Linked DNA regions of Homo sapiens: regions 1 and 3 are each linked to region 2. The links come from fine-mapping of genetic effects on gene expression. A gene starts in region 2. Each other region holds a variant in brackets. All regions are shown on one strand. Distances are between the middles of the regions.

Evidence for each region. PIP is the estimated chance that this variant, and not a neighbour inherited with it, causes the effect. A credible set is the group of variants that fine-mapping cannot tell apart.
Region 1: its variant is the best candidate, but not a certain one, in a credible set for the expression of LIG3 in subcutaneous fat (GTEx, PIP 0.56).
Region 3: its variant is the best candidate, but not a certain one, in a credible set for the expression of LIG3 in monocytes after LPS (Fairfax 2014, PIP 0.62).

The regions. Positions count from the first base shown.
Region 1 is chr17:35,028,474-35,031,235 of GRCh38, forward strand. The region is part of intron 1 of RFFL (ring finger and FYVE like domain containing E3 ubiquitin protein ligase); the gene reads right to left. All of the region lies in intron 5 of RAD51L3-RFFL (RAD51L3-RFFL readthrough), which reads right to left. Among named protein-coding and RNA genes, the nearest start is that of RFFL, 34 kb to the right of the region's middle. RefSeq lists an enhancer at 137-186. The variant G/A (reference allele first, on the strand shown) is at 1,415.
Region 2 is chr17:34,979,394-34,982,155 of GRCh38, forward strand. It overlaps LIG3 (DNA ligase 3), which reads left to right and starts at 1,119. Exons shown (of 20, transcript NM_013975.4): 1 at 1,119-1,229. RefSeq lists a silencer at 1,144-1,573.
Region 3 is chr17:35,101,500-35,104,231 of GRCh38, forward strand. RAD51D (RAD51 paralog D) reads right to left here. Exons shown (of 10, transcript NM_002878.4): 7 at 1,955-2,045; 8 at 1,755-1,825. RAD51L3-RFFL (RAD51L3-RFFL readthrough) reads right to left here. Exons shown (of 7, transcript NR_037714.1): 3 at 1,955-2,045; 4 at 1,755-1,825. Among named protein-coding and RNA genes, the nearest start is that of RAD51D, 17 kb to the right of the region's middle. The variant AT/A (reference allele first, on the strand shown) is at 943.

The DNA.
Region 1 (2,762 bases), 49 kb after region 2:
AACCTAACAATTGTAAGAGGGCCCACTCAAATGCCAAGCATTGATGTGAGATATGAGTATGTTTTTCTCAGTAGACTAAAGCAGCCCATGTAGATACTTTGAGCCTGAACTCTTTGCTTACAGAGACAATAAATGAAACATTTAGTGTTATTATTTGATAATCAGTTCACACAATAGAATGCTCTGCTGTCTCCTGACTCATTGTTTTAACAAGGGCACTTTCATAAGCTAGAAGGAACTAAGAAGCCAACTGATTCAACCTGGGTTATTTCATCGAGGAAAAAAGAATGAGAACCAGCAAGGGGAAGTAACTTCCTAGGTCAAATAGCTCATAACCTCAGGCCTCTTCACTTCTCTAGGTCCTTTTTAGCTTTCCAACACTGCCTCCACTGCACCTGTGATATAATTCGCTCCCTTGCAGGGGTCTCTGATTAACACCTGTCTCCCCAACTGGCCTGTAACTTGCCTGTAACCCCCACGACAACAGGGATTGTGATAGTCTAACAGTGCCCAATTAGACAGGTAGCTCAACAAGAACTAGCAAATGAATTAATCATATACAATATCTAAGTCTTAACTAATCACACATTTGTTCAATCTTCAGCACATCAGAAACATTTCTCTCTGACTCAATATAACCTGTCTGAGGGTTCTAAGTTCCCAGGAGAGGAACTTAGTTCCCAGGAACTTAAGTTCCTAGAATAAGAATTGCAAGTAATCTGCCTTTACTTGCAATTAACAGTTCACATGGAATAATGAAGTAAAGAGTTCTTCACAGAGTGTGTGTATGATAAAGTAAATGAGTTCTTTGCTGCCAAGAGAAATGGGGACAACAGAGGAGGAATAGCCCTCTGAAATATTTTGTAGTTTTTTTTTTTTTTTTTTTTGAGACAGGGGTCTCACTCTGTCACCCAGGCTGGAGTGGAGTAGCATGATCTCGGCTCACTGAAACCGCCGCCTCCCAGGTTTAAGTGATTCTCCTGCCTCAGCTTCCTGAGTAGCTGGGATTACAGGCAGCTGTCATCATGCCCAGCTAATTTTTGCTTTCTTTTTTTTTTTTTTTTTGAGACGGAGTCTTGCCCTGTCGCCCAGGCTGGAGTGCAGTGGCATGATCTCAGCTCACTGCAAGCTCCGCCTCCCGGGTTCACACCATTCTCCTGCCTCAGCCTCCCAAGTAGCTGGGACTACAGGCGCCCACCACACCTGGCTAATTTTTTATTTTTTTTTATTATTATACTTTAAGTTTTAGGGTACATGTGCACAGCGTGCAGGTTAGTTACATATGTATATATGTGCCATGCTGGTGTGCTGCACCCATTAACTCGTTATTTAGCATTAGGTATATCTCCTAATGCTATCCCTCCCCCCTCCCCCAACGCCACGACAGTCCCCAGAGTATGATGTTCCCCTTCCT[G/A]TGTCCATGTGTTCTCATTGTTCAATTCCCACCTATGAGCGAGAACATGCGGTGTTTGGTTTTTTGTCCTTGCAATAGTTTACTGAGAATGATGATTTCCAATTTCATCCATGTCCCTACAAAGGACATGAACTCATCATTTTTTATGGCTGCATAGTATTCCATGGTGTATATGTGCCACATTTTCTTAATCCAGTCTATCATTGTTGGACATCTGGGTTGGTTCCAAGTCTTTGCTATTGTGAATAGTGCCGCAATAAACATACGTGTGCATGTGTCTTTATAGCAGCATGATTTATAGTCCTTTGGGTATATACCCAGTAATGGGATGGCTGGGTCAAATGGTATTTCTAGTTCTAGATCCCTGAGGAATTGCCACACTGACTTCCACAATGGTTGAACTAGTTTACAGTCCCACCAACAGTGTAAAAGTGTTCCTATTTCTCCACATCCTCTCCAGCACCTGTTGTTTCCTGACTTTTTAATGATTGCCATTCTAACTGGTGTGAGATGGTATCTCATTGTGGTTTTGATTTGCATTTCTCTGATGGCCAGTGATGGTGAGCATTTTTTTGTGTGTGTTTTTTGTATTTTTAGTAGAGATGGGGTTTCACCATGTTAGCCAGGATGGGCAAATCTCCTGACCTCATGATCTGCCCACCTCAGCCTCCCAAAGTGCTGGGATTACAGGCGTGAACCACCATGCCCAGCCAATTTTTGTATTTTTAGTAGAGACTGGGTTTTGTCATATTGCCCAGGCTGGTCTCAAACTCCTGACCTCAAGTGATCCACCTGCCTTGGCCTCCCAAAGTGCTGGCATTACAGTTGTGAGCCACCATGCCCAGCCAAATTTTGTAATTCTTTAAATCACACGTTGACAGACAAATCTGAGACAGTATGTAATAATAAAAAGAATATAGAATCTGGAATAAGAAGGCCTCAGTCCTAAGTCCTGCTCTACTTACTTAAGGGCTGTGTTACCTCCCTCTAACAAGTAATAGACTTTCTGTACTTCATTTTTCTCCTCTGGACAGTCTGTATGCTATAAAGCACTATATAAACATTAGTTGTTGTTATCCACATTATAACAATGCTTTTAACTACAATTTTTCTGGGAAGGCAAAGGTACAAAATAAACCTAATAAACCTACAGATTTCACAACAATTACCATCTGGCTTTCTGGGCTTGTCCCCTGCAAAGAGGACAAGGTTGTAGGCAATTCACTAACTTTTTTTTGGGATGGAGTCTCCTTCTGTCGCCCAGGCTGGAGTGCAGTGGCATGATCTCAGCTCACTGCAACCTCTGCCTCCCAGGTTCAAGTGATTTTCCTGCCTCAGCCTCCCGAGT
Region 2 (2,762 bases):
TCATAGCTAGGACGTGAGTCTCCAGCGACCTTCCAATTGCCTGGTTGAACCAAAGCCCTGGTTCATTCTGCTGCGCATTAAAAGCAGGCTTTACTCCCCTCCAAACAGTAGAATCGCAGTTAAACTTAGTCAAACAAACTTAATGTATCCAATACAAAACTCATCTTTCTAACCCTAACACCTCCTCTTCCTCTCTATTTTCTATTTCAGTTGATGGTACCATTATGTTTCTGCTCACTCAAATTATTATTATTTTATCCATAAACGAGCACTTTATCTAGAAGATCATTTAAATTCTAAATGATCTTCAAAAACGCACTTTACTCTCCACCCTAACTAGCTGAATCATCTCCCACATGGGTCACTATGAGAGCCTTCTGATTTGTTCCCTTGCCTCAGTCTCTCCCCACCCAGCTTCAGCAGTATTCCCTAAGACTCTTCATGGCTCTCCGTCCTCTACAGAGTAAAGACGACACTCTTCATCACACAGCACAGAATTCTCTCGGGAACCTGTTCTTTGCTTACCTAACAAGGCCCAGTTGTTTGCTCTTCCTAGACTCTGAAGAGGTCACTTACCCTCAGGCTGCTACATTTGTAAAAATCGCCATCCCAACTCTCAAAGAGCTGGCTTCAGATTTGAGATAATACACTTTGAATGATATACAATCAAGGAGTTTCTCCTCCATCACTCCTTTACATTTTATATCTATCTGCTGTTTAGTGCCTCGTCTCAATTCCATGAAAGCTACTGAATACAAACTATTTACTAGGGAGTCTGCGGGACACAAACAGAGGGATTATATTTAAAAAATAGATTGACGCGATCTTTGCCTTCCCCGACCTCATTACAATATAGTTTCTCCACCAATATCTTTAAAAACAGATCCTCTCTAACAGTATGAGAAAATCAAGGGGAGCCTCGGAAGTTCAGGCCAGGCTGCGTTCCGAGGAGCCGCCACGTCCCCCCACCTCCGCTTCCCGGGCCGCGATTGCAGGTTGAAAACTACTCCCAAACATCACAGGGCAGGCAGAATGCAACTACGACCCACGTGGCAGACGGGGGCGGGGACCGGTCGCGTGGCCGCGGCCTTGGCTCTTGCGCCTGCGCGCTGCCTCCCGCTCTAGGACCCGGATTTAAAGAGACAGGCGCTCCAACCGTCGTGGGCTGCCCGCGGCCTGTAATGAGCAAGTTCCGAGGCCTACGGTGAGCGCCGGAGCCGGAGAGGCAGGTGAGGGGCTACGCGGCGCGGCACGGCGCGGCGGGGCCCGGCGTGGGGAAGGCAGCGGGCCCGGGGCGAGGAGCTCGGCGCGGCCGGGGAGCCAGCCCCCCGGCTCCTCCCCCGCCCGCCTGCGGAGCCCCGGGGCACACCCTCCGTGACGTGGCGGCCCTCCCGGGAGCCCAGGGGGAGGCTCGCGGCTCCCCGGGACCCCCACGGGGCCGCGTGAGGCGGGGAGGCCGGCGCCCGGGCTGTGTTCCCTGTGGAACCCACGGGGCCTTCTCGTACCCTGGCCCGGCGTGCGTCCTCCTGCGCTGAACCGGGAGCGCTCGGGTGGGACTCAGGGAGCCTTGATCACTTCCCGCCTGCGTCCCGGACCCGGTGGAGGAGCGCTCCTTTCTGCCTCGCCGGGGGTCGCGGCCTACGCCGCCGACCCCACTGTCCCCGCCACTCTCCGACAGCGGCGCGGGAAGCCCTTCGAGAAAAGCGGCGGCGGCCAGGCCTCAGCGATTTCCTTCTCGGGCCCCTGGGCTGCGGCAGTTGTGAGGGTGCGGAACGAGGGACAGACGGGTTTCCTCAAAGCTGCATTGTGCCTCCTCGTGGCCCAGCGCCTCCCGAGCCTCCCTCAAGTCCACTCCTTTCATTATTGGGGCCCTAGAGGTTGCTCTGTAAATTGATCTTCTAGGAAAAGTGTTGAAACTCACTTGTTCTGACCTCCTTTTATGGGTCTGCCGTACTTCCACTTACCTCACCTCTGTGGTTCTTAAACTTTGGGAGTTATATAGCCCTTTGTGAATATCACGAAAGTGATAGACCTCCTCCAAAAAACCGTGCATTTTTATCGAATGTACATTTTGTATACATTTTTAGAGAGCTCAGAACAGCCTCCCTCCCCCACAACCAGCGCATTCATGGATTCCTTGTAATTTTCCCAACTACCCTGTGAGGTAGGTATTATTTACCCTGCTTTAGAAATAAGAAAACAGATGCAGATAAATTAAGAGTTTTCTCCGAGGTAACAGTCAGTAAACTGTACAGTCAGACTTGCACTCCCATCCCTTATTCCAGGTCCACCAGCTTTCCTTCACATCATGTTGCACTACAGTAAGCAAAGCCTGCTTTTTATTATAACGTGACAGCAATTTTGCTTCACAGCGTGTGCAGACTGAACATAATTCCAGTATACTTAAAACTAGGACTATAAAATGCTTTAGAAAACATGAATATAAGAAGATGCTGATATAATCTTTTTCCATTTGGATTGATTTATGAGTTCCTGTGAGTCTTGCTGCCCAGTGACTTCAGCATTCTCTGATTCAAGTTGCTGAATGATAAACAGGTTAATTGCACATCGGAAGCCTCTTCTTGAAAGATAACGACGTCACCGATCATAATAGGAGCTGACGTTAATGAGAGCTCTTGCTGTGTGCCCAACTGTTTTAAGGGTTTTACTCTTAGAACAGCTCTTTAAGTTAGGCCCCATAATTAGCCACATTTTACAGATAAGGAAGCTCAGGAACAGAGGTAAGAAACCCATCAAGGTTA
Region 3 (2,732 bases), 120 kb after region 2:
CAGGTCTGGAACTAGAACCTGGGCCTCCTGACTTGTGCCCCGCTCTTTCCACTAAATCTCGATGCCTCAGGTTTGACCCGAACCAGAAGGCGATGGGGCACATGTCACCATGCTTTCCAGGCTGGTCTCAAACTCTTGAGCTCATGCAGTCCGCCAGCCTCAGCCTCCCAAAGTGCTGGGATTACAAGTGTGGGCCACCACGCCCAGACACTCAGCCTTTAAAAGGAAGGAAAGTCTGACACATGCTACAAGGTGGATGAACCTTCTGGACATTATGCTAAGTGAAATACTCCAGTCACAAAAAGTAAATACCATATGATTCCATGTATATGAGGTTCCTAGAGTAGTCAAAAAGCATAGATACAGAAAGTAGAATGGTGGTTGTCAGGGGCTGGGGAAGGGGAAAATGAGTTATTTTTAATGGGTACAGAGTTTCAGTTTTACAAGGTGAAGAGTTATAGAGATGGATGGTGGTGATGGTTGTACAGCGTTATGAATGTATTTAACACCACCGAACTGTATACCTTAAAGTGGTTAAGATAGTAAATTTTATGTTACATGTATTTTACCACAATAAAAGAAACTGGAAAAAATATATAGCTGCTAAAAATTACATTTCTAAAAAATCTATTTTAAAACATAGGAAATGGACTCAGATGGTATTTTTTATGTTGTTGTTTTGGTTTGTTTGTTTTTGAGATGAGGTTTTGCTCTGTTGCCCAGGCTGGAGTGCAGTGGCATGATCACAGCTCACTGCAGCCTCGATCTCCCAGGCTCAAGCAATTCTCCTGCCACCAAGGCCACCTAGTTTTTGTATTTTTTGTAGAGGTGGGGTTTTGCCATGTTGCCCAGGCTAGTCTCGAACTCCTGGGCTCAAGTGATCCACCAGCCTTGGCTTCTCAAAGTGCTGGGATTACACGCATAAACCAGCGCACCTGGCCT[AT/A]TTTTTTTTATTTTTTCATGAGGTTAGTTTAGTTAGAAAGCTGGTTAAGTGTGGGCTCACACCTGTAATACCAACACTTTGGGAGGCTGAGGCGGGTGGATTGCTTGAGCCTGGAAGGTCGAGCTGCAGTGAGCTGTGATTGTGCCCCTGCACTCCAGCCTGGGAAACAGAGCGAAACCCTATCTCAAAAGAAAAAAAAAAGAAAGAAAGAAAGTTGGCTAAAAGTATAAGTAAATATGCAGAAAAAGTATTGTATGGAGATATGTAAAAATATTAATATGGTTTCTGTGGATGTGGAGATTGATGACAAATTTGAATCATATTTATTTTCTATCCTTTCTATGAGAAGCATGCAGACTTTAAAAAAACTACCTCATAAGCAGAAAAAGTTACTTCAATAGCAAAAAGATCCATTTATATGAAGCTCTGGAAAAGGCCAAACTATTGGGATGGAAAACAGATCAGTGGTTGCCTGGGCCTGGGGGACCTTTTGGTGGGGTCACAAGACTGGATACAACTATATCCATTAGTCAAACTTCAAACAAGGAGAAAGTTACTCTATGTAAATTATACCTCAATAAACCTGACTAAAAAGAAAAAATGTAGAAACAAAACAAAACAACAAAAAAACAACAAGACGATTCCTGATTCCCTTAGCTATTTATGGTGCAAAGCTGTAGCTGACCCAGGGAAGCTGGGATATGTCCCTTTCCTAAAGGGCCACTTTGGGGTTCAGAAGCTGACATTTAAGGGAAATAAAGAGCTCGCAATAACTAGAAATCAAGTTCATTGGCCAAGCCTGCTTCCTCACCACCACTGCCATGCCAAGGTCCCGGGCCAGGGTCTTCAGCTCTCGGGCCAGCTGCATCATCAAGGCCAAGCCTGCAGGAGGAGGAGAAGCAGAGAGGGAGGGCAGTGGGGAACCAGGGATGGGGCTGGCCAGAGACCAGACTCCAGAGCTGGGAGGCGAGGTCACATTCCACTGGCCCCAGGCTCTGCCACATCACTCACCTTCCCTCTGCTGACCTCCCAGAAGTGGGGAAACCACCGCAGTGACCGAGTCCACAACCACCACCTTCACAGTTCCTGAAGAACCAGTCACCTGAAGGAATGTGGGGGAAGCACTCATGAACCTGTCAGCCTCTAGGACACATTACAGGACAAGCTTGCTTTTCTATCTAAAACTAGTAAGAAATAGCCCCCCCATCCCAAATACAGCAAGCTGCACGGGCATCACAGAATGTCATCAGCAGCAATGTCTCCCTCGTCCCATTGGCATGTGTAACAGACTTCAATGAAGACTTGGGTAGAAAGAAAGGGTTTAAATCACAGGACATCAAAACTACACTAAAGTGGCTGGGCGCAGTGGCTCACGCCTGTAATCCCAGCACTTTGGGAGGCCAAGGCGGTGGATCACTTGAGGTCAGGAGTTCGAGACCAGCCTGGCCAACATGGTGAAACCCCGTCTCCACTAAACATACAAAAATTAGCTGGGCGTGGTGGTGCACACCTGTAATCCCAGCTACTCAGGAGGCTGAGGCAGGAGAATCGCTTGAAACTGGGAGGCGGGGGTTGCAGTGAACTGAGATCACACCGCTGCATTCCAGCCTGGGCGACAGAGCAAGACTCTGTCTCAAAAAAAATAAAATAAAATAACTAAAAACTACATTAAAGTCATCAAATTTCAGAAAGCTCCGCAGAGAGTCCTGAGGCCTCTGGTCATGGATCTCTCAGCAGCCATCTCTCTCCTGTGTCCAGCCTCCCACCATGGTGGTAAGGCCCTTCTTTT